Homo sapiens: one gene and its partners. The protein of the gene in region 6 interacts with the protein of the main gene of each other region in a pairwise test. Each region holds a gene or a part of one and is shown on either strand. Other genes may lie near its edges.

Region 1 (3,838 bases), on a different chromosome or scaffold from region 6:
AGGGCCTGGGGTGCCCAGCTGGCGAGGGGGTCGAGGGCATGGGGCCAAGCAGACCCAGGAGGGGACCCAGTGGTGGCTTCCGAGGCATCCCCGCAGGCAGGATGCCCCTGCCACCTCACAGCACTGTCCTGTCCAGGGTCTGTTGGGCCCTGGTGATGAGTGGCCGGTGCCTTGGCCCCAGGGAGCTCATGTATGGCTCTCGTACCTGTCTTGCCAAGGGTGTGTCCGTGTGCTGTGTACATGCATGTGCCCGTTCACGCGGCATGTGCTTTATCCATGCTGCTGTGAGCCAGCCCAGGCTAGGCCCTGGGGGCCTGCGGTGGAGTAAGACAGGCACAGGCCAGGTGCAGTGGCTCATGCCTGTAGTCCCAGCACTTTGGGAGGGCAAGGTGGGCGGATCACCTGAGGTCGGGAGTTCGAGATCAGCCTGACCAATGTGCAGAAACCCTGTCTCTACTAAAAATACAAAATTAGCCAGGCGTGGTGGCGCATGCCTGTAATCCCAGCTACTCGGGAGGCTGAGGCAGGAGAATGGCTTGAACCTGGGAGGCGGAGGTTGCGTTGAGCCGAGATCGCGTCATTGCACTCCAGCCTGGGCAACAAGAGCAAAACTCCGTCTCAAAAAAAAAAAAAGAAAGAAAGAAAGAAAGACAGGCACAGACCCCATACAGTGTGTGGGGTGGAGGGACGTTTGAACAGAGACCCCAATAAGGGAACTGCTGGCCCTGGGGCGATGGCCAAGAGCTTCCCGGACAGCATGCGTGGGGGAAGAAGAGCAGGGGGCGGTGGCGGGGACGTCTCTGGGCATCCCTGTGAGGGTGGGAGTGGGGCTCCCAGATGGTAACAGATTTCCTAGGAGTGTAGGGGAGCTGGTGGATGTTTTCACACCTTGCAGAAGCCTGGCCCTATTCAGGCTTCAGGCCCTGGCTGATGAGAGGACAGCGCTTCTGGATCCAAGGTGGCGTCAGCTGACCCACGGGCAAGCTGGGGGTGGCCAGGGGGCAGTCGGGAAAGGGGGTGGGAGGAGCCCAGGGGCCTAGTTCTGTCAGGACGTTTGGGTGCACGATGTCTGCCAGCCATCCAAGTGCCCTGGAGAGAGGTCAGCCGGGTATGGATTTGGGTCCAGCACTGACAGGATGCTAGGAGCCAAGGCAAAGAAGCTGCTTCCCTTGAGACAACCGGGGATCAGGCTCCAGAACCTGAAGGAGTGTGGACACGGGTTTGGGGCTCTCACCTGCGTCAGCCGACGAGAGACACTGCTGACACGCCAGACCTGCAGCGTGTGACCCCATCGGTGGGACAGGGACAGGCCAAGATCAGGCCCAGGAGCAGGGTGGCCCTGTTCCCAGGCACATTCCCATGGGTGGCCCTGTTCCCAGGCACATTCCCATGGGTGGCCCTGTTCCCAGGCACATTCCCATGGGTGGCCCTGTTCCCAGGCACATGACCCTTCTGGCCTCCCAGGTGTTCAGGGATCTCCCAGCTCCTTGTGGCCCCTCATCTTGCCCCACCCCATCTCCCCCAGGGGAGCAGAGGCAGAAGGGGAGGTGGCATACCTGCTTCTCAACCTCATGTGGGGTGGGCATGGGTGGGTGGAGGAGGTTGCCCAGTGGGCCAGGGATGGGGAGGAGCACACCAGGAGCCGAAGGGCCCCTCCTGGAAGGCCAGAGACTCGCGGGCACTGGGTCACACTGCTGGAATGGAAGACGGCAGAGTCTGTGGTCTGGGCACTGTGGCAGGGACAGTAACCTGGACTGCAGATTCTGTGGGGAATTTGGGAGTGTGGGAGAGTGTGGGAAGAGCCAGCTCCAGGGGCTGCCCTCCTGCAGTGGGTGCCCATGTGTGTCAGGTGCCTGCAGGGGCTGCCCTCCTGCAGTGGGTGCCCATGTGTGTCAGGTGCCTGCCCATGTGCTGAGGGCCTGTGTGGCCGTGGAGGCGTGTGTGCCCACGGCAGCGCTGCTTCCTCTCTGCCACTAGGAACCAAGAGCGGCGGCGCGCGTGGCAGGCCTCCCGGGAGAGCAAGCTGCAGCCCCTCCCCAGCTGTGAAGTATGGTGAGTCCAGCCGGCTGGTGTGTGCGTGCTGGGGGGGCCCCAGACCGGGAGACTCGGGCCTGACATAGCCTGGCCCCCGTGCCCACAGTGCCACGCCAAGTCCTGAGGAGGTGCAGAGCTGGGCGCAGTCTTTTGACAAGCTGATGCACAGCCCAGCGGGACGCAGCGTGTTCCGGGCGTTCCTGCGGACAGAGTACAGCGAGGAGAACATGCTCTTCTGGTTGGCCTGCGAGGAGCTGAAGGCCGAGGCCAACCAGCATGTGGTAGACGAGAAGGCGAGGCTCATCTACGAGGACTACGTATCCATCCTGTCCCCCAAGGAGGTGCGCCAGACACCAGAACAGGCCGGGGGCCGCCTGCTCCAGGCACTAGGTGGGGAAGGCAGCTCCCGCACCCCCTGACCTCAGTGTCTTGTCCTGCAGGTGAGCCTGGACTCCCGTGTGCGGGAGGGCATCAACAAGAAGATGCAGGAGCCGTCCGCACACACGTTCGACGACGCGCAGCTGCAGATCTACACGCTCATGCACCGGGACTCCTACCCCCGCTTCCTCAGCTCTCCCACCTACCGTGCCCTGCTGCTGCAGGGGCCATCACAGTCCTCCTCCGAGGCCTAGGCCGCCCCCAGCAGCACAGACCCCGCCGCCTCCTACGGCCGACTCTGGGTTCCCTTCAGGTGTTGTTGTCGGCAGGGCTGTCAGGGCACATGCCTGGCCGGCTGGGGTCCCCACCCGCGGAGACGGTCCTAGACCCAGTGGGGAGTGCTGTGTCTCCTGGGTCTGCCCACCCGTGGCCAAGCAGGAACTCCAGGTGCAGGGCGGGCCTCCAGGTGCAGGGCGGGCCAGAAGCCCCCTCATCGGCCCGCAGCTGGCTGGCCCAGTGCTCCTGGCTGGGGGCTCTTGCGTGGTGAGAGTAGGGGTCCCCCCAGGAGCCATGCTGGACCCATGAGCCTCGCTGGGGCCTCCTCCCCAGGCAGCCAATGGGCCCCAGACAAGCCTTTGGTGGGGAACAGAACCTCCGCATCGTGTAGTTTTGTGACATAAGGAGACCTCCTACTTGAGCTGTCTGTACCCCAGAATCAAACACAGAACCTCAGAACCAGATTTAGGACCTCAGAATCCTGCACTCAAGGTGGCAGGACCCAATTTCTGTTTTATATGTTCATGAACTTTAAACCTGGAAACATGTCCTTACTAGGTGTTTTATCAAAAAAAAGTTTTCATATTTATCTCTATCCCTAACCCCCCAAAAATAGGATGTCTTATTATTGAAGATATTTTTAAAGCAAAGTCTCTACTCATTTTTGTCCAAGTCTGGGGAGAGACTGGAGAATGAGTGGCCCCAGACTCAGGGCTGGGGAGAAGTGTCCTTGTCCCAGGGCAGGGGCTCCAGTGCCCCTTGGAGGGGACACACAGCCGTGTGCTTGCCCTCTTCCCATGCCCTGGCCTCCACCAGACCCCTCCTCAGAACAGTGGTCCCAGTGGGTGGCTGTGCTTAACCCTGCCCGGGGCATGAGCTCCACGCCCTCGGCCTCAGCCTCCTTAGCTGAAAGTCGGGCCAGAACAGTGACCCACAGCACCTCAGAAGTCGAGAGGCAACAGGAGGTGCCGCCCAGGCCCAGCCGGACGGGGTCCCCAGAGGCAGGCTGGCTGGGGCAGGAGGGGCCACTTGGTGCCAGGCCCAATGTCATCTTTCTCATCTCACAGGCCCCATGAGTTGAGTGCTCACCAGCCCATCCCCTGCATTTCTGGGAAGTTAAGTGAGTTGAAGCTGAAATTGGCTCAGGGCC
Region 2 (3,500 bases), on a different chromosome or scaffold from region 6:
ATTCGTTCCTTATCCTGGATATTGGCCTTTACATTTTTCTGTTGTATCCAAGGGTTCAACCTCTAGGGTGATGATCGTCCCTGTAAGGATTTTTGGAAAAATCTGCATTTTGGTGGAGGCTCCACCTGAGGTTGAGGGAAATGAAGAGATGGGTTAGACTGTGGACACAAGAGAGGTGACACAGGAGAGGGTGCTGGCCAGAGAGCAGCCCAAGAGCACACGCCCATAGATTTCTTAATTTGTATAAAAGTCATGTTGATAATTAATGACAGGAAGTCATTATCCAGAGAACTCAGATTAGACTACTGTTAAAAAGTACATGTGGCCAGGCGTGGTGGCTCACGCCTGTAATTCCCACACTTTAGGAGGCCAAGACGGGTGGATCACTTGAGCCCAGGAGTTCCAGACCAGCCTGGGCAACATAGTGAAACCCCGTCTCTTTAAAAAATGCAAAAAATTAGCTGGGTGTGGTGGTGCACACCTGTAGTCCCAGCTACTTGGGAGGCTGAGGCTGGAGAATCACCTGAGCCTGGGGACACTGAGGTTGCAGTGGGCCATGATCTTGCCTCTGCCCTCCAGCCTGGGCAACAGAGTGAGACCCTGACTTAAAAAAAAAAAAGGTATATGTATATTTTTCTCTATTCATCTTTTGATGACTCCAGAAGAATCTTACATGTATGGGGTCTTCCATTATACATTCATTGTGTTTTTACAAATACTTATTTCTAGTGACTACCCAGATATAATTCATATATCTCCTGCCATAAAGAAAGGTATAGATATTTCTTTGCATTTAAGGGGGACTTTACATACAGAGTTTAATTCTTCCTGACCTACTATAATCCCCGCAAATTTCAGTTGTTAGGACTGTTTAATGAATTAGAGTATTTCTAAAACTGAAACAAAGTTTTTCTGTGTTTGTTAGGTTTCAGTGAGGAGCTATTTGGTATTTTTGTGAGGTTTATGACAGCTTTTAACTTCATTTACTTGAGTTATAACTTACAGTAAAGTTTACACATCTTAAGAGTACAGCTTAGTAAACTTTATGTAAGTGTACCCCCACAGAACCACCATTTAGATCAGGGTTTCTCACCTCAGCACTGTGGAAATTTGGGGTTGAACAACTCCTTATTGAGGGGGGCTGTCCATTGCCCTGTAGGATGTTTAGCAGTATCCCTGATCTCCACCCACTGCATGATGCAGTAGCGCCCCTCCCTGGATGCCATGACCAAAAATGTCTCTAGACATTGCCAAGCGTCCTCTGGGGCCAAAATCACTCACCACGGCTCTAGATGAAGATATAGGATATTTTCAGCCCCCCGTGCTCTCCCAAAGATTCCGTCTCGCTTCCTTCCATTCAGGACTCACTCCCACAGGTAACCACTTTTATAACTTTTTTCACCATATACCAATTGTGCCTGCTTTTAAACTTCATATGTAATTAAACAGTGTATAATATTTGCATCTGGTTCTTTAGCTCAGCATTATGTTTTTGAGATTCATTTGTTGTTGTACGTGTTGTTATTTTTTAATGCTGTGCAGCGTTCCTTTGTGTGAATACACCACAGTGTATTCCATTCCACTACTGAAGAAATTTTAGTTGTTTCCAGTGTGGAGCTATTATGAATAATGCTAATATGAACATTCTCATTCATGTCTTTTGATGAACTTATTTCCTTTGGGTATATGCCCAGGATAAAAATTGTTGGGTAATAAGTCCAGTGTATGTTTAGCTTTAGTAGATACTGCAAAACTGTTTCATAGTCCAAATCAGTTTACATCCATCCCCACCAGCAAAGTGTGTATTGCTTCACATCCTCACCAGTACTTAGTATTGTTTGCCCATTTAACTTTAGTCATTCTGGTGGCTGTGTAGTGGTATCTCATTATGGTTTTAATTTGTATTTCCCTGGCTACTAATGATGTTAAGCATCTTCTTATATGTTTTTGGGTCAAGTCATTTGTATATTTTCTATTTAAAATGCCTCTACAAGCCTTTGGCCCATTTTTCTTTTTCTTTCTTTCTTTCTCTCTCTCTCTCTTTTTTTTTTTTTTTTTTTTTTTTTTTTTTTTTTTTTTTGAGACAGGGTCTCACTCTGTTGCCCAGGCTGGAAGGCAGTGGCACAATTAGCCGTGAAGCTGAGACTATAGGTGTCCACCACCACACTCAACTAATTTTTTTATTTTGGATATTGGGAAGGGGTAGAGATGGGGTTTCACCATGTTGCCCAGGCTGGTCTTGAACTTCTGTTTGGCCCATTTTTCTATTGTGCCGCTGATCTTTTATTATTGTTATTATTGATCTGTCACAGTTCTTTATATATTCTGGATACAAGCCATCTGTCAAAATTCTGTGTGTGTGTGTGTGTGTGTGTGTGTGTGTGTGCACGTGCTGCAAATCTCTTCTTCCAGTCTGGCCTGCCTTTACACTCTCATTCCATTATCTTTTGACTTTCCTAGTTTCTGTTGGAAAGTTATGCTTCTTTGAAGGTAGCCTGTTGTTATCCTCATAAAGTTTTTCTCTCATTTTTGACTTACCACAGTGAATATAATGTGCCTATATGTGGTTTTCATTTTATTTATTCTCCTTTGGGTTAACTGAGCTTCTTTTATCTGTGGATTGACGTCTTTCATCAACTTTGGAAAATTTTCACTCAATATCTCTTCAAATATGGCTTTGTCTGGTTTTCTTTCTTTCTCTCCTGCTTCTGGGACCCAAATCACAGATATGTTGGCCTTTTTCCTTCATGTCTCTTATTGTCTGATCTGTTTTGTTCATTTCGCATATCTTTCTGCTTCAATTTGAATATTTTCTGTTGACCTGTGTTTTAGTTAATTAAGCTGTCTTCCTCTGTGCCTGAGTCTTCTGTCAAATCATCTAGTGAGTTATTAATTTCAGAACTTGTTTTCTTCTAAATGTAGTATGCCAATTTGATTCATTTTAATACATTTAAATTATCTGATGAAATTTCCCATCTTTTCATCAGTTTAGTCCATCTAATTCTTATCTACTAAATCCAATGAGATCATCTGTGTGCCTGTATCCATTTTTTTATTCATCACATTTTTATCTCTCTTCACATATCTAGTAATTTTTATTATATGTAGACATTGTATATAAAGAAACTGTGTAGGTTCTGGTAATTTCTTCCACCAGCAAGGATTGAATCTCCCTTGGAGGGATTTCCTGTCTAAGGATGAAGGACTGAAGGGCTGATCACTTCAGGCCAGCAGGTATTAGAATGGGTCAGATCTGGTAACAGTTTTGGGGGTTTTTTTGTTTTGACATGGAATCTCCCTCTGTCACCCCTAGAATGGAGTACATTGGCACCATTATAACCTAGAATTCCTGGGCTCAAGCAGTCCTCCCACTTCAACCTCCTGAGTAGCTGGGATTACAGGCACTTGCCAATTCACCTGACCATTTTTTACAAATGTTTTGTAGAGATGGGGTCTCGCTATGTTACCCAGACTGGTGGCTGCAGTTTTAATAAGATTTA
Region 3 (3,383 bases), on a different chromosome or scaffold from region 6:
CTTGTGCTCGGTGGCCCCTGGCCCGAGGACCCCAGATGGGTGGCGGAGAAACGCAGGGGATAGAGACTAGCCCCCTAGCCGGGCTCCGTGGGCCCGGAGTGGATTCAAGGACCGGTGGCAGAGGGCGACTGCAAGTTGGCCCCGCAAAGCCAACAAGGGGAAGGGTAGGGTAGTGACGACATCACCTGGTCCTTCAATAGCCTCCCGGGAGGCTTCAGGAACTCACATCTCTTTCCCTTGACGAACAACGCAGGTGGTTTGCTGAATTAAGTGTTCCCGCCCCAAATTGAGATACAACGGGCTTTTTAGCCAGATTGGCGCAGACTGGGAGTTAAATCCAGCATTTTCCCGGCAAAGCTGAGCCTGGCCGCCGCGGAGCCCTCTTTCCGCTGTGCGGTGCCTCCGGCTCCGATCGCGGGCCCGGCGCCCCGGGACGCGCCGCCGAGGGTAGCTACGCGGCCGGGCTGCGGCCTCTCCCGGAGAGCCTGCGTGCGTGGTCTCTCTAGCTTGCTGCCCGCCGGCCAGGAAAACTCTGGGGACAAGCTGGAGCTGGCGGAGGTTCCCATCCGGCCACCCTTCCCGTCTGATTTCCTGAGCTGACGGTCACCGCCGGCGTTCGGGGACCAGCGGTTCCCTGTGCAAAGGGCTCGTTTCTCGATCGCCGCTGGATAGACCGCAACCGGGTTCTCAGAAAACACCCGAGCTACAGACCGCATGTAGCTTTAAACAGTTTTTAAAATGCGATTATGCTTGCGTCTTTATGAAAGCACATGGATGCAGTTATACGTATGCATTAAAAAACACAAACAATTCTGCATTGATTGCAAAGGAGCGCTTTCTGGTGGCAATGTAAACGGTCTAGTTTGAGACCCGTGATGACACACGTGAACTGAGTTGCCAAACTCATAGAAACTCCACACGGTAGATCTGTACATTGTGTCCCGTGTTAATTGTACGTCAACTGAAAAATCAGAACTTACATGAAAAGTACGAAGTGCCACTGCATACACGCATATCTAAAAGCCGGTAAGATGCGGCTATAGATGAGCACATTTACAGCAATGAAGGGCCACTCTGCCGGGTTGCTAGCTTATTCAAGCTTCGCATCGCCGGGAAAGGGATGGAAAGGCAGCTGACATCACTCGGGGCGGGGCCGTGAGTCCTGTGAAAAGTCGATGGGACTCGAGCAGCAGCCTCAGCTGCCTTGCACAGCCTCGCAATGAGCTGCCACAACTGCTCCGACCCCCAGGTCCTTTGCAGCTCCGGGCAGCTGTTCCTGCAGCCCCTCTGGGACCACCTGAGGAGCTGGGAGGCCCTCCTACAGTCGCCCTTCTTCCCGGTCATCTTCTCCATCACCACATACGTGGGCTTTTGCCTGCCCTTCGTGGTCCTGGATATCCTGTGCTCCTGGGTGCCCGCCCTGCGGCGCTACAAGATCCACCCTGACTTCTCGCCATCCGCGCAGCAGCTGCTACCTTGCCTGGGGCAGACCCTCTACCAGCATGTGATGTTTGTGTTCCCCGTGACGCTGCTGCATTGGGCCCGCAGCCCGGCCCTCCTGCCCCACGAAGCTCCCGAGCTGCTCCTGCTGCTGCACCACATCCTGTTCTGCCTGCTACTCTTCGACATGGAGTTCTTCGTGTGGCACCTGCTGCACCACAAGGTGCCCTGGCTGTACCGCACCTTCCACAAGGTGCACCACCAGAACTCGTCCTCGTTCGCGCTGGCAACGCAGTATATGAGCGTCTGGGAACTGTTTTCTTTGGGCTTCTTCGACATGATGAACGTCACACTGCTCGGGTGCCACCCGCTCACCACCCTGACCTTCCACGTGGTCAACATCTGGCTTTCCGTGGAGGACCACTCCGGCTACAACTTCCCTTGGTCCACTCACAGACTGGTGCCCTTCGGGTGGTACGGGGGTGTGGTGCACCACGACCTGCATCACTCTCACTTTAACTGCAACTTCGCTCCGTACTTTACACACTGGGACAAAATACTGGGAACGCTGCGGACTGCATCTGTCCCAGCGCGGTGATGTGGCTGCGGTGGGTGCCCCTAAGACTCGGGACTGCTGTGCCTTTCACACTTGAATGAAGAGAAACACCTGAGCTATATATTTTTTTAAAGCAACTAACTTATTGCTTTATGTTTATCTATGAAAACCATAGATAAAATCTGATGCATTTTTGTAATCTGACAAAGTAATTTACATACTGTTTGTGTATCAATACAATTTTGTGTTCTTGGTATTCTTAGTCTAGCTCACCTCAATAGCCTTGAATCCTGCATATGAATTAGACATTCATCACTGGCATATTTAGAATATCTCTAAAAGGACTTGTTTGTAGAATAAGGAATTTTCTATGTTTCAAAGTGTTCTAAAACCTGGCTAAAAGAATGTATTTTTGTGGATGGTGTTGACTTCTGACTCTAAAAGCAATCAAACATGTTTCTGCTGGACAGTGACCAAGAATTATAGTACCTTCTTATATTTTTTTATAGAACTGTATATTTATTTTGAAAGAAATGTTATTCGTGCTTTAAAAAGGAAAAAAAACCATGAATCAAATAAGTATTGACTTCCGTTTCACTGGTATTTTGACTGATAAAAAAGGGAAGAGGGAGCGGGCATACCAAGTGTCCTTCTAAGCCTCCATCAGCCTCACCATGGAAAGAGAGGAATCTGGGTGTAGGGTGTTCTGTTGGGGGTTGTTAGAGAAAAGGAGGCAGGAGAAGGGGCTCTGTTTGTTGTGCTCTAGCAATTTCATGGAGGAAAAACACGCTAATATTCTTAATGCTTTTCAGCTGATTTCTGTATAACAGGCAAATGATAGGATTACTCTGTAAAGTTTCATAGAAAGATTAACGCTGAGCAGTCAATCATTTTATTATTTGTGGGAATGGATTAGGGGAAGAACAGAATTGGAGGCGTGCCTTGCTTTGCAAAACTGGTGAGTCAATAGTATACACTAGAGTGGCTGATAGATGTGCAAGGGGATTCTGAGGAAGCCCCTGTTTTCATGAATCCATCCATAGCTACTGCAAATGAACATCAAAGCATTGCTTCTGAAATCTGGAATTTCTGTATATTCAGTTTTCTTAATTAAAACATACATGCAGCAGGTACAGCCCTTTCTAAAAGAAAGATAAAGTGAAATTTGGCCCTGGATCCCTGATTCCTCATGTGGAAAAGGAGGAGGTGTCCCAGATGTTCTTGCAGATGACAGTAAATATTCCTATTATTAACCACACACCCATCACCCATCACTCACCCCATCTAACTCCTGCCTATTCATTTTAGTTTTGTTTTTGGAATATATATAGTGTAGAGTTAAAAATCAAGACAATTTAGACACAATATAAAGAATGGCAGCTTTGTG
Region 4 (3,500 bases), on a different chromosome or scaffold from region 6:
GACTTCCACTTCTGTGATTACATGAAAGTCTCAATAGATATCTCTCTTAACAACATACCATTTTGTCTTCTCTTGGCTCCTGCAATTTTGATAACTCCAAAAGTCAGGAAATGTAAGTCAGCTCCCTCTTTATGAGATTTGCCAGCCACTCCCACAGTTCAGCATTCTGTCCTTAGCGCTGATATACTGAATGTGCTATTTAGGTTTGTGCAAAAGTTATTGTGGTTTTTGCCATTGAAAGTAATGGCAAAACTGCAATAACCTTTGCACCAACCTAATAAATGAGAAGCTAAGAACCTTGTTTGTGTATCAACTGCAGTTGTGTTTGCAATGGGAAGCAAAATATACAATAAACCACCCCCTGAAGGAAACATAGTGGCTCAAGTTTTCAAATGTATCTGGGTAAGTCCATAAATTGTTTTCTTGCCTTTTTCAATCAAAAGAAAGAGATGCTATGCTGAGAATATGGGCCTTCAAACGTGGGCATACATTTTTCTCAATGACCTCTATTCTATTTTCATGTTTTTTAACAAGCTAAGATTAACCAGTCTTCTTCTTATGCCTCTACTTAACCATTAAGTTAAAAAAAGTAATCATCTTTTTAAGTTGGCAAAAATCTTCTGAAATGTAATTATATATAGACAGATAACATTTTTTCTTTTTTGTTGTTATTTTTTGTTTTGAATGGCAAGTTCTTTCTTAAAGTGATAGATAAAATTATATCAGAAATATTCTGAAATTCAATGCCTGATTAGGTCAAAGAGTTGGAATAAGTCACTAGAAGTATGGTGTTTGAAGGAAGGTATAATAAGTTGGAAAAGGCAGAGGATGTTTTTCTCTTTGTCTCTCCCATGATGTCTACTCTCTGCCCTAGTTTGCTATTTCCAATCGTTTCAAGAACCGTTCTGGAGACATTCCAAAGCGACAGCACTGGCTAGACTGGGCGGCTGAGAAATATCCAGTAAGTTGGAAATGCAGAAACATCTTATGGCTTGATAGAGTCTTTCCTAATGTTCAAAATGATTCTATCCTACTGCATTCAACCTCCTCTCTACTGTTTTTTGGACACTTCTACTTTAAGCAAGAAAGCCATGTACAGAACTTCTAGCATTTCTGCCCATTCTTCCTCCTTTTCGCAGAAGCAGCTCATTATGGATGTAAAGGCACTGACCAGGGTACTATTCCTTTATATCCCATTGCCCATGTTCTGGGCTCTTTTGGATCAGCAGGTAAGAATAGTTCTTTTGGACATTACCGCTCCTTACAGCCACTTCCCTCTCACAGGAAAGGGATTTCTCATAACAGGATCTGTTTGCCCTAGGGTTCACGATGGACTTTGCAAGCCATCAGGATGAATAGGAATTTGGTGAGTAGAAGAGATTTTCCAGAGAAGTCTATTATTTTCTTCATCATCCATATTGGGGAAAAATTAATTTCTTTGTGATTTTGCCTGAAAACTAACAAGATCTTCAGAGAAGTGCTTTTAGCCTGAAGGTACCGTGTAGGCAAAGATAAAGAAAGCTAGTTTAGAAATAAAAACCAGAATCTTCTCTTTAGAAATCAGGAACATAAGGATGAGAAAGTTTCAATGTATACAAGGAAGTATTGAGAGGCTAGCAAATGATGTGATGCGTAACCTGGGATAGTGATTTTCTTCTGTCTAAGCCTATCCCAGAGTACAGCAGGGACAGGTTTGAGTGGCACTACTACGCAATTGGTCTATCTCTTCAACAAGGATCACAGCAGGGGACCTGTGGGAAATGGAATATTTTGTATGTATGGATATGGAAAGAATGAGAAGGTTATACGTATTATTTTCTCTTTTTCCAAACTCCATTCTTTAGCCCACTCAAATAAGGTACCATCTCTACTCTCAATTGTTCTTTTCCTAGATTAGTGTATTATTTTTCTATCTTCTCAGTTTTTGAAAAGACAGAGTAGAATGATACCAGGGTCTTATTAGTCAGTCTATTTGGAGCCTGCAAAATATAATTTTACCTTTTCCCTTCCTCTGGCTGTCTCTTATTTACCATGGTGGTCTTCTTGTTGACCCTCTGGAGAACAACTTTGGAAACACTATGTGTCAGGGAGAGTCTTCACCCTAACCATGATGTCTTGCCCTTCATATTATTACAACCTAGAACTGCAGTTGCTGAGATCAATAAAAATGCACTGACTCTATTCTCTTTCAAGTTAAGGAAAGCATAATACATAGAAAATAATTTCTCCCTTAGGCCCATCTGCCTGGCAAACATAGCCAGAAGCTTTCCCAAGTCTGTTCCCATCCCCCAAATAATCTTAACAGCAAAATAGTGGCCCTGAACCAAAGACCTGATGAATTTTCTCTCATATGTTTCTCACTTGCTAACTAGCAAAATTATTGATCTAGGCCAACATTTTTTTTTCTTTTCTTCAGACATCAACTAAATTAATTTGTTAAAATGTTTCAGGGGTTTTTTGTGCTTCAGCCGGACCAGATGCAGGTATGTGACTCTTCTATAGCCATGGGGACTTATTTGTTTCCTTATCTATGCCTCCACCTGCAGTATTACGATTAACAACCATAATTTGATGCTTTTCTCCTTGTACGCTGATAAGGGCCAAGCTTCGACATGAAAACATTCCCATTAAGCCCCACCCTTCTCCTTCACATCCCCTGTTAAGTACTTAACTTGCAACGGGTTAAGTGTAAGCATTGGATTTTTTTCCAAGTCAAGATAGTATAATCAAAATCTTGTAAAAGAAATTGTAAGGCTTATTTTGTGAGCAATGAAGTCATGAGAGGAAAGAGCTCACAATAAGGCTGGCAGAAAGACAGGCTCAGAGTGAAACTTGTCCCTTGGGATATTTGAAAGCTAAAATGCTATGCAAGGGAAATAGGGTCTTGGGTGTAAATGGACTGAGGAATGTGGAGTCATTCTGTACTTACAATGACAAAAGTGTGTGTAGATGTGAGACAGAGTGTAAACAAGCAAATGAGTGCAGTGCTCACACTCATGATAGGAGAATATTTGTAGCTAATCCTTTTTATCATGGTGTTACAGGTTCTAAATCCCCTTCTGGTTCTTATCTTCATCCCGTTGTTTGACTTTGTCATTTATCGTCTGGTCTCCAAGTGTGGAATTAACTTCTCGTAAGTGTTCACTATGTCTGTATGGATTACTCTAAATTGACTCAGTCTTTGCCCAGTTTGAAAAAGATTCAATGTCAGTATTTTTCTTAGTGAGGATTGGTTTTAGTTTATCATCTATCTGCTTCTATTTTTCCATGTTAGACTAACTGCCTATTGACCCTGAAAAATGTGAATTAGATATAATTAATGAGAGTCAAAGCCATTACTGTGGACTTAACTGTGTAATGGTGGTGGAGGGGCAGGTCTAGGTTTCATGCCAAACCAAAAATATGTGAAATTTAGCTCCTAAACCAACTTTCTTCTTTGTTCTTGAATGTTGTCTCTTCAAAGAAACTCAAGGCCTTTGATGACTACTAATCCCTTTAAA
Region 5 (3,500 bases), on a different chromosome or scaffold from region 6:
TTCACCATGTTGGCCAGGCTGGTCTTGAACTCCCAACCTCCAGTAATCCGCCTGCCACAGCCTCCCGAAGTGCTCGGATTATAGGCGTGAGCCACCGCTCCCGGCTAGATCTGTTCTCTTTCTGTCATCACTCTCTTCCCTCCGTCGGCCACCCTGGATGGGCCCTGTGTCCCACATTCTCTTTTTTTTTTTTGAGACGGAGTCTTGCTCTGTCACCCAGACTGGAGTGCAGTGGCCTGGGTTCACGCCATTCTCCTGCCTCAGCCTCCCAAGTAGCTGGGACTACAGGCACCCGCCACCACGCCTGGCTAATTTTTTTGTCTTTTTAGTAGAGATGGGGTTTCACCATGTTAGCCAGGATGGTCTCGATCTCTTGACCTCATGATCCGCCCGCCTCGGCCTCCCAAAGTGCGGGATTACAGGCGTGAGCCACCGTGCCCGGCCGTGTCCCACATTCTCACACGCATGAATGGATTGGAGCTGTGGTTGGCACAGTGAAGCCCCTCTGCACCCCAACACACACAATCTCCAGTGTGAGCCCTGACCCCCTCGGCTAAGGTTCACACCTGCTGTGCCCAGCACCTGACATCTGAGTGCTCAGAGGTGCCAAGTGCTGTGCTGAGGGCTTTGAAGGTGATTTCTCCTCAGTCCTGGACAATCCCAGGAGGGCCAGGTGTTATTACATCCATTGTACACACCAGGAAGTGGGCTCCTCTGAGGTGCAGGGCCCCGCCCAAGGCCATACAGTTAGTGGGGTAGAGCTTTGATGTCCACTATAGGGGTGTCCACCTTCAAGGCTTTGAAGTAGAGCCCTTCAGTGCCTCAGTGGGAGACCCGCTGCCGGGTGCTCTCCTGCCCTCCTCCTGGGGTGGGAGAGGATGAGGGAAGGGTAGAAAGGATGTGTTGTGTTGACAGAGCCTGGGACACCCAGCCCACTCCTCTGGCCAGGCATCCCACAGGAAGTGGGAGGTATCGGAGCTGTAGCACCACCTGGGGCTCATGTGGGGCTGGTGGGTGTGCTGGGCCCTGGTACAGGAGCTAGGAGCACCTGGGTTCTGGGCCTGGGTGTGTGGGGGCTGGGCCTTCCTCTTCTGAGGCCTTGGTGCCACCAGAGGAGCTGCTCCTTCATGTTCAGCGGCTGCTCCCTAGCAACCCAGCGCAGCTTTGCATAAGCAATGAGGCCTCGCCAGCTCTGGGCAGGAGGGGTTCCCTGGGGAGGGTGGAGCTGACTTGGGGGCTGCTGCCACTGCTATAACTGGGCTCTTCCCCCCTGTCCTTCATGCCTGCCTGTCTCTTCCTCCTGGGTTCAAATGGCCCATTGGTGGAGGATGAGGAAGGAGAGAGGGGAGGGGAGTGCCAAAGCCTGTGACCTGAAATGCCCCCAGCTCACCTGGGATGATTCCATGTTCTCCCCACAGCCATGGGCCTAGGACAGTCCCAGCAGCTCCTGAGTGCCCCTTCCTAGGGCCTGAGCCCCTTTTTCAGAAGTCCTGGTATCTGATGTATGTCCTCCTGTCTCCATCCCCAGTTCTGGCATAAAGCATGCTTCCATTGCGAGACCTGCAAGATGACACTGAACATGAAGAACTACAAGGGCTACGAGAAGAAGCCCTACTGCAACGCGTGAGTCCTGTTCTGGGCAGGGGGCTGGGTGGGCACCTTGGCTCCCTCCCCGAGTGAGTTCTTCCTTTCCTTCCAATAACCGCAAGGTGACATTGGCGAACACTTCCATCCCCTACTTGAACATCACAGTTTGTCCTCACAACAGCTGAATGAAGCAAGCACTTTTTATCCCCATTTAAAGTGCTTTTATCCCCCATTTAAAGTGCATTTAAAGTACAGATGAGGAAACTGGGGCTTAGGGAAGGGAAGAGACTCTCAAGGTGGGATGGCTAGGGCAAGACAGGCTCTAACCCAATTTCGGGCAGTAAGGCGAGCACGTTTCTTTCCACTGTCCCCTGCTACAAAAGAGGGGGCTTTCCTCGTGGTCTTTCAAGAATGAGTGACGTGTCTGTTGTATTTGGGGTTGAGGACTTTGTTCTGTTTACCTTCCCTTATTTCTCTCCTCAAAATCGACAGTTTCCTTCTCTCACCTGGGTACTTCTAGGCTTTGGGGGCTCCTTCCTCCAGTGGTTCCTTCAAGAAAACTCTCTGGAAGCCTCATGCCAGCCCTTTTGGTGTTCATTTTTTGAGAATGGGCAGGGGTGCATAAAGGGTGTTGCCTGGGCCAGATAGATCTCTTCCCTGCCTGGTGAGGGAGGCTGTGGAGACTGTTTCTTTTGAGTATAGTCATCTTGAGTATAGTGCAGCTCTGTTCCTTCTGCACTGGGACCTGCAGCAGCTGACGGTAGGGAGGGAGTATAGAGGTGGGGTCCCCCATCCCAGAGCCTGGAGGAATACCTCCCCTCCCATCCCATCCCATCCCATCCCATGCAATCCCAGAAAGTACAGCAATTTTCCATCTTCCAATTGACCTTGTGAGTAGCAAGTACAAACTCAGTGTTGGGGCCTCACAGCCGCCTCCACCTGCGAGGTGGAGGCTTTGGAAGGTCAAGTCACTTATAAGTAATGATGTAATGATAATTTCTTTTTCTTTTAATTTGCTTTTTTTTTTTTTTTTGAGTCAGAGGACTCATCACCCAGGTTGGAGTGCAGTGGCGCGATCTTGGCTCACTGCAACCTCCGCCTCTTGGATTCAAGCGATTCTTGTACCTAAGCCTCCTGAGTAGCTGGGATTACAGATGCATGCTACCATGCCCAGCTAATTTTTGTATTTTTTAGTAGAGACCGGGGTTTCACCGTGTTGGCCAGGCTGGTCTCGAACTCCTGACCTCAAGTGATGCACCGCCTCAGCCTCCCAAAGTGCTGGGATTACAGGTATAAGCCACCTCGCCCAGCCTTAATTCGATTTTTTTTTTAATTTTAACTTTTTTTTTTTTAACTTCAACCAACTCAAGTAATGGTAATTTCAGTGTTCACATGAATTTAGGATCTGACTTGAGTCCAGTTTTTTTTTTTTTTCTCTTAATTCTCAGTCAGGAGGCTCTTTGCAGCTGAAGTTCACCCAGGGAAAAAAAAATTTGGGACTTGTCTAAAAAGGGGGCTTAAACCTCCAGCCTTACCCCTAACCTTACCCCAAACCTTCCTTGCTTCCTTACCCCCTCCCGTTCCCTGGCTAAGACCACTCTTTCATCTTTTTAGGGGCTCGCTCATTCAGCAGACATTTATTGCCTGCCTGCTGCTATAATACATACTAACCTGCACCAGGTGCTGGGAAAACAGATTCCTGATAAAAATCTCAAGCCCAAGAAGCAACATGAAGTTGTCCCTTCTGGAAGAAGGAGGGCACTGGGCAGGTTATCTGGGTAAAGGAAGGGTTGCAGCTCTGTCCTGGCCCCTCCTTCAGCTGCCCCTTCTCTTCTATTAATTTCTACTGTTCCTCTTCCCCCTACCAACCCCTCCCACCCCCACAAGGGAAATGGGACATTCTTCGAATTCTT
Region 6 (2,251 bases):
TGTCTGCTGCCAACATGCAGGACACGGATCAGTTTTTTGTCGTTTTGCTTTCTTTTCCTTTTTGGCTCAGCTCTGAGAGCATTACAGAGCTATCCTTTCCCGCCTCCCGACCCTCTTCCCCTCCCCCTCTTCTTTCTGGTGCAGGCAATTAGGGTGAAGAAATCAGTGCCAGGCTCCTGCCTCTGAAGAGAAAGGAATTGCTTCGGGAATTGAGTCCTGACACCTGTCTCTGTCCTGGATGGCGAGGGGGGATGCGGGGTCAAAACGCCTGGGGGAAGAGGCCAGGCTGACGCGGAGGGGCGTGGTGGGGGTGGGGGGAGACACTCCCTAAGCGAAAGTTTCTGGGGACTTCTCTTGCCAAGTCCTCCCGCCTCATCCTTTGGCCTCCAGCTTCACGCAGGTCATTAACACGCGGGTTATTAACACGGAGTTTCCCTCGCTTTTAGCCCCCCGAGACCAGGACCTCGGGCTGGAATCAGAAGAGCAACACTGACAAGCCGTTCATTAATTTGCATTTATTTTCGGGAAGTAATGTAGATAAAGAGGAGGAGGGGGACTGCCTTACATTTCAACAAGTAATTTGTGATCTTCACATCAGACAAATCAAATTTACAAATTACTTTCCCACCTACTGGACGAAGCGGCCAAAGCCAAAATTGATACACAGGCGCGCGGGCTCTCCGCAGATTTCGGAGAACGAAGGTGCACTAAAAACTCACTAGACAAAACAAGGGTGTTGAAAGAGAGAAGCCGACAGAGGAGTTGGAACTGGGTTTGGGGCCTGGGTTTGTTTGTTTTTCCCTAATGCTGTACTTTTACGGATTTTGTTTTGTTTTGTTGTTTTGTTCCCTGGTTTTGGTTTTCTTGTTTTAGGTTTGTAAACTGGAACTGCGACCCTGTGCTTAGACCGGGTGAGGGGGTCAGCCCTGCGCCCCTGCCCAACCCCCACCTCTGTACCCTGACTTGTCTGTTTCCTCCACACTTCGGATATCCCGCGCCCAGCTTCCTGAAACCAAGCGGTTCTCTTCAATAAATACACAGAGGGAGAAGATGTGAAGAGGGCAGGGCAGCTTTGCAACAACTGAAAAAGAAAAAGCGCCATTGATTGAGGAAGAGCAGAAGGGGGACGGACAGAGGGAAAATATTTTTTGCTTTTGTTTTTTATATATGTGTATATATATATGTATATATATATATATGTGCTGTATATATCTTAAAGTTCTGTTTCCTGGGTGCTAAGACAAGATATGTTCAGTTCAACCAACCAACAGCAACTAAAAAGTTTAAGTGGTCCCTGGAACGGACCTGACTATGTACAGCGTTCCCGCCGAGGCGGAAGCTTGAACCAGTCCAGCGCAGGGCGGGGCGGGATGCGGCTCTGTGCGCGGAAGGCTGGGGACGCGCTCCTCCGGCGGGCCTAGCCCTGGCGCGCCCCAGCGCACTCCGCTGGGGCGGAAGAAACGCCGGGAGGCTCTGGCCGGCAGGCGTGGAGCAAAATCGAGGGCAGCTGAAGGGGCAGCAGTCTGCGCGGGAGGAACTCTTAGTGGTTTTGATTTGGAGTAGTGTGCGGGTGCTCCAATGGGCAGAAACACGCCAGTTAGTGACTCCAGTGTCCAGAAAGAATAAATTAAAGTGTTGGGCTCAAACAGCGGATCAGAGCGCAGAGCCTCCGAAGGCTGCAAGTGCTTAATAGCTGTCCAGAAAGACTGGAAGGGGAGGCTTAAGAGTTTAGTAGGGGCTGAAGGGGGGAAATAATACATCTCTCCTGTATAGAATGTGTAGGCCAAGCCGAAGCACCGGTCCCCCCATCCAAGGGGCAGGGTGGGTTTGCACATCCCCCCAAGCAAGTGGCACAAAAATGGGGGCGGCAGTGCAGGCAATGGACATCTTTTTGGGGGGTGAAAATTCAGTTTTGGAGAAGACGAGGCAAAGGCGGGCGGTGCAGCAGCAGCAACAGGATCGGGACCACGGAGGGCGCAGGTAGTTGCGTTTCTTCTCCTCTTTCATTCCTGGGCTCACAAGACCTGGAACCGCCATGAGGCTTGGTCCTTATAGTCCAGACAGTCGGGGGAGTTGAAGTTGAGTTTCCAGGCGGAGGAAGCAGCAGCGGCGCCAGGCTCCTTGTAATCCAAGCAGTCGGCAGAGTTGAAGGCAAGCCCAGAGCCACCGTAGCCTTGGTGGTGGTGGTGGTGATGGTGGTGGTGGTGGCCTGAGGACTGGCTCAACGGGTGGTGCGCATGTGGGTGGTGAT
Region 7 (3,500 bases), on a different chromosome or scaffold from region 6:
CGGTGGCTCACGCCTGTAATCCCAGCACTTTGGGAGGCCGAGACAGGCGGATCACGAGGTCAGGAGATCGAGACCATCCTGGCTAACACGGTGAAACCCTGTCTCTACTAAACAAAATACAAAAAAATTAGCTGGGCGTGGTGCGGGCGCCTGCAGTCCCAGCTACTCGGGAGGCTGAAAGGCAGGAGAATGGCGTGAACCTGGGAGGCGGAGCTTGCAGTGAGCCAAGATCCCACCACTGCACTCCAGCCTGGGAGACAGAGCGAGACGCGAGACTCCGGCTCAAAAAAAAAAAATTTATTTGCCTGCAAATGGATTTACTTTATCCTCGTTCTTAAAGGACTTTTTTTCCCTTAGGTGTGTAAGATTTTAGGTTGACAGTATTTTGTCTCTGCACTTTGCAAACAACGTTCTGTCTCTGGGCATGGGCAGCCGTAGGGTCTGAGCAGGAGCCTTGGTTTTTGGTGCTTGTGCTCTGATGGGCTGACATGTATCCTCAGCCTGTTTAGAGTTTGAGGCCTCTTGGATCTGTGGCTTGAGGCCTTCATCATGTTTCTTCCAGTGTTGTTTCTGCCCCGTTCCTGCTCCTCCAGGGACCCCGAGAGCCTGACGTTCAACCTCTTGAAACTCCGTCATCTGTTTGTCTTTCCTGTTTCCTGATGGATATTCCCTCTGGTGTCTTTCAGTTCATGGATTCTCTTCTGGTTATGTGTCATATGGTGTTAAATTCATCTGTTGAATTCTTTTTTTTTTTCTTTTTTTTTTGAGATGGAGTTTCGCTCTCATTGCCCAGGCTGTAGTGCAGTGGTGCGATCTCAGCTCACCTTGAACCTCCGCCTTCTGGGTTCAAGCGATTCTCCTGCCTCAGCCTCCCGAGTAGCTGGGATTACAGGCGTGTGCCACCACACCCAGTTAATTTTGTATTTTTTTTTAGTAGAGACGGGGGTTTCACCATGTTGGTCAGGCTGGTCTTGAACTCCTGATCTCAGGTGATCCACCCGCCTTGGTCTCCCAGAGTGCTGGGATTACAAGAGTGAGCCACTGCGCCTGGCCAAAATTTTGTTTTTAAATTAGCCTGGCGTGGTGGGTGCGTGCCTATAGTCCCAGCTATTTGGGAGGCGGAGGTGGAGGCGGGAGGACGCTTGAGCCCAGGAGTTTGAGTGAGCCATGATTGCGCCACTGCAGCCTGGGTGACAGCCCCACCCTGTCTCTCAATTTTATTTATTTATTTTTTTTTGAGACACAGTCTCGCTCTGTCGCCCAGGCTGGAGTGCAGTGGCGCGATCTCGGCTTACTGCAACCTCCGCCTCCCGGGTTCAAGCAGTTCTCCTGCCTCAGCCTCCCGAGTAGCTGGGATTACAGGCGCACACCACCACATCCGGCTAATTTTGTATTTTTAGTAGAGACGGGCTTTTTCCGTGTTGGTCAGGCTGGTCTTGAATTCCCAACCTCAGGTGATCCACCCGCCTCAGCCTCCCAAAGTGCTGGGATTACAGGCATGAGCCACCGCACCCGGCAAGTTTTAAATGAATAAATTAAATTTAAAAGAAGTCTAGTTTTTTGCCAATTTTTGTTTTTGACACTCTCGCTCTTGTTGCCCAGGCTGGAGTGCAATGGCACAATCTCAGCTCACTGCAATCTCCGCCTCCCGGGTTCAAGTAATTCTGCCTTAGCCTACTGAGTAGCTGGGATTACAAGCACCCACCACCATGCCCAGCTAACTTTTGTATTTTTAGTAGAGACAGGGTTTCACCGTGTCGGCCAGGATGGTCTTGAACTCCTGACTTCAGATGATCTGCCCACCTTGGTCTCCCCAAGTGCTGGGATTAAAGGTGTGAGCCACTGTGCCCAGCCCAGTATTTTTTTGTTTGTTTTTACCGAGATGGAGTCCCGCCCCATTGCCCAGGCTAGAGTGCAGTGGCGTGATCTCAGTACACTGCAACCTCCACTTCCCAGGTTCAAGCGATTCTCCTGCCTCAGCCTCCTGAGCAGTTGGGATTACAGGCACGCACTTCCACACCTGGCTTACTTTTGTATTTTTAGTAGAGACGGGGTTTCACCATGTTGGCCAGGCTGGTCTCCAATTCCTGACCCCAAGGGATCCACCTTAGGCCTGGCCGCCAACATTCTGAACCTTGTCTTTTCTCTGTCATGTATTCAAAGTCCACGCTGGAAACTCCAATTTCAGGTCCCTTCAGTTTTTTGTCCGTTGTCTTTCGTTCTTTGTCCACGTTGCCCGTCCCTTGTGAACTGGATGCTGTGTGTGAGCAACAGGGACTGAAAAGCTCAGTGCAGTGCCCTCGCTCCCCGCCCCGCCTCCCTCCCTGCCCCCGCCCCCCTCACTCCCTGCCCCTGCCTCCCTCGCTGCCCGCCTCCCTCCCTCCCTCCCCGCCCCCACCTCCCTCGCTCCCGCCCCCGCCCCCTCGCTCCCCTTCCCCCACGCTCCCCACCCCCGCCTCCCGCGCTTCCCGTCCCCCGCCTCCCTCACTCCCCGCCCCTCTGCTGTGAGGACACAGCCTGAGCGCAGCCCTGTCCTCCACAGGTAGATGATGAGCTGGAGATCAAGGCCTACTATGCAGGCCACGTGCTGGGGGCAGCCATGTTCCAGATTAAAGTGGGCTCAGAGTCTGTGGTCTACACGGTCAGTGGAAGGGCTTGAGGCTTGGGAGGGGCTGCTGGGGTGGGAGGCACCCTCCTCATGGCATCCTTGATCGTTCACCAGGGTGATTATAACATGACCCCAGACCGACACTTAGGGTAAGTAGGCTGAGGTGTCTTTTTGTCCCGTGGGCCCCCCTGGAGCTCAGGACCCTTGCAGGTGTCAGGGTGCCAGCCCTTGAGTGGCCAGCCTGGCAGTGTCTCCCATGTCCTGTGCGGCCTGGAGAGCCCCCTTCGTTCTGGGCCCAAATGCGCGAAGGCACAGGGTCCAGGCAGGGGCCTCTGTCCCTCCTTCTCTCTCTTCCCAAGTCTCTGGGTGGGTGCCTCTGTCTCGCTCTTCCGAAGTGTCTGGGTGGGTGCCTCTGTCTCTCCTCTCTCTTCCCAAGTGTGCTGCCCACAGCATTTTACCAGCTGGCTCTTTCCAGCCAGAGTGACCTAGGAAGGCGGCTGGGCGTGGTACTGGGGTCCAGCTTGTCACACCCAGCCCTGCAACCGTGGGGACAGTGCATCGTGGCTCACACCCCCACCCCCGTGTTCCAGAGCTGCCTGGATTGACAAGTGCCGCCCCAACCTGCTCATCACAGAGTCCACGTACGCCACGACCATCCGTGACTCCAAGCGCTGCCGGGAGCGAGACTTCCTGAAGAAAGTCCACGAGACCGTGGAGCGTGGTGGGAAGGTAGCTGCAGCAGGGGTGGGGACATGGGCCCTCGGCCATGCTGGGCTGGTCTTTCTGGCAGGCTTGGCTGCCCTTGGCATGGGTCAGGGTCTCAGGGTGGGGGGTACTGCATTTTCAGGCAGGGAGGGAAGAAGATTTGCTCAACATTGAGGAGGAAAACTCA

Evidence for each region.
Region 1: the proteins of OTX1 (region 6) and RGS19 interact in binary tests that used the Homo sapiens proteins (3 or more experiments, as listed by UniProt).
Region 2: the proteins of OTX1 (region 6) and RGS20 interact in binary tests that used the Homo sapiens proteins (3 or more experiments, as listed by UniProt).
Region 3: the proteins of OTX1 (region 6) and CH25H interact in binary tests that used the Homo sapiens proteins (3 or more experiments, as listed by UniProt).
Region 4: the proteins of OTX1 (region 6) and SLC15A2 interact in binary tests that used the Homo sapiens proteins (3 or more experiments, as listed by UniProt).
Region 5: the proteins of OTX1 (region 6) and LASP1 interact in binary tests that used the Homo sapiens proteins (3 or more experiments, as listed by UniProt).
Region 7: the proteins of OTX1 (region 6) and INTS11 interact in binary tests that used the Homo sapiens proteins (3 or more experiments, as listed by UniProt).

The regions. Positions count from the first base shown.
Region 1 is NC_000020.11:64,072,681-64,076,518, reverse strand, and holds the end of RGS19 (regulator of G-protein signaling 19), read left to right. Parts: intron 1-1,977; coding exon 1,978-2,052; intron 2,053-2,140; coding exon 2,141-2,375; intron 2,376-2,474; coding exon 2,475-2,666; 3' UTR 2,667-3,338; downstream 3,339-3,838. UniProt on the Homo sapiens protein: Inhibits signal transduction by increasing the GTPase activity of G protein alpha subunits thereby driving them into their inactive GDP-bound form. Binds to G-alpha subfamily 1 members, with the order G(i)a3 > G(i)a1 > G(o)a >> G(z)a/G(i)a2.
Region 2 is NC_000008.11:53,887,372-53,890,871, forward strand, and holds part of RGS20 (regulator of G-protein signaling 20), read left to right. Parts: intron 1-3,500. UniProt on the Homo sapiens protein: Inhibits signal transduction by increasing the GTPase activity of G protein alpha subunits thereby driving them into their inactive GDP-bound form.
Region 3 is NC_000010.11:89,205,129-89,208,511, reverse strand, and holds CH25H (cholesterol 25-hydroxylase), read left to right. Parts: upstream 1-1,194; 5' UTR 1,195-1,219; coding exon 1,220-2,038; 3' UTR 2,039-2,883; downstream 2,884-3,383. UniProt on the Homo sapiens protein: Catalyzes the formation of 25-hydroxycholesterol from cholesterol, leading to repress cholesterol biosynthetic enzymes.
Region 4 is NC_000003.12:121,921,901-121,925,400, forward strand, and holds part of SLC15A2 (solute carrier family 15 member 2), read left to right. Parts: intron 1-319; coding exon 320-402; intron 403-874; coding exon 875-961; intron 962-1,139; coding exon 1,140-1,229; intron 1,230-1,321; coding exon 1,322-1,366; intron 1,367-2,450; coding exon 2,451-2,483; intron 2,484-3,044; coding exon 3,045-3,133; intron 3,134-3,500. UniProt on the Homo sapiens protein: Proton-coupled amino-acid transporter that transports oligopeptides of 2 to 4 amino acids with a preference for dipeptides. Transports neutral and anionic dipeptides with a proton to peptide stoichiometry of 2:1 or 3:1.
Region 5 is NC_000017.11:38,876,558-38,880,057, forward strand, and holds part of LASP1 (LIM and SH3 domain protein 1), read left to right. Parts: intron 1-1,528; coding exon 1,529-1,623; intron 1,624-3,500. UniProt on the Homo sapiens protein: Plays an important role in the regulation of dynamic actin-based, cytoskeletal activities.
Region 6 is NC_000002.12:63,056,081-63,058,331, reverse strand, and holds the end of OTX1 (homeobox protein OTX1), read right to left. Parts: coding exon 2,016-2,251; 3' UTR 501-2,015; downstream 1-500. UniProt on the Homo sapiens protein: Probably plays a role in the development of the brain and the sense organs. Can bind to the BCD target sequence (BTS): 5'-TCTAATCCC-3'.
Region 7 is NC_000001.11:1,314,661-1,318,160, reverse strand, and holds part of INTS11 (integrator complex subunit 11), read left to right. Parts: intron 1-2,542; coding exon 2,543-2,641; intron 2,642-2,722; coding exon 2,723-2,757; intron 2,758-3,198; coding exon 3,199-3,337; intron 3,338-3,500.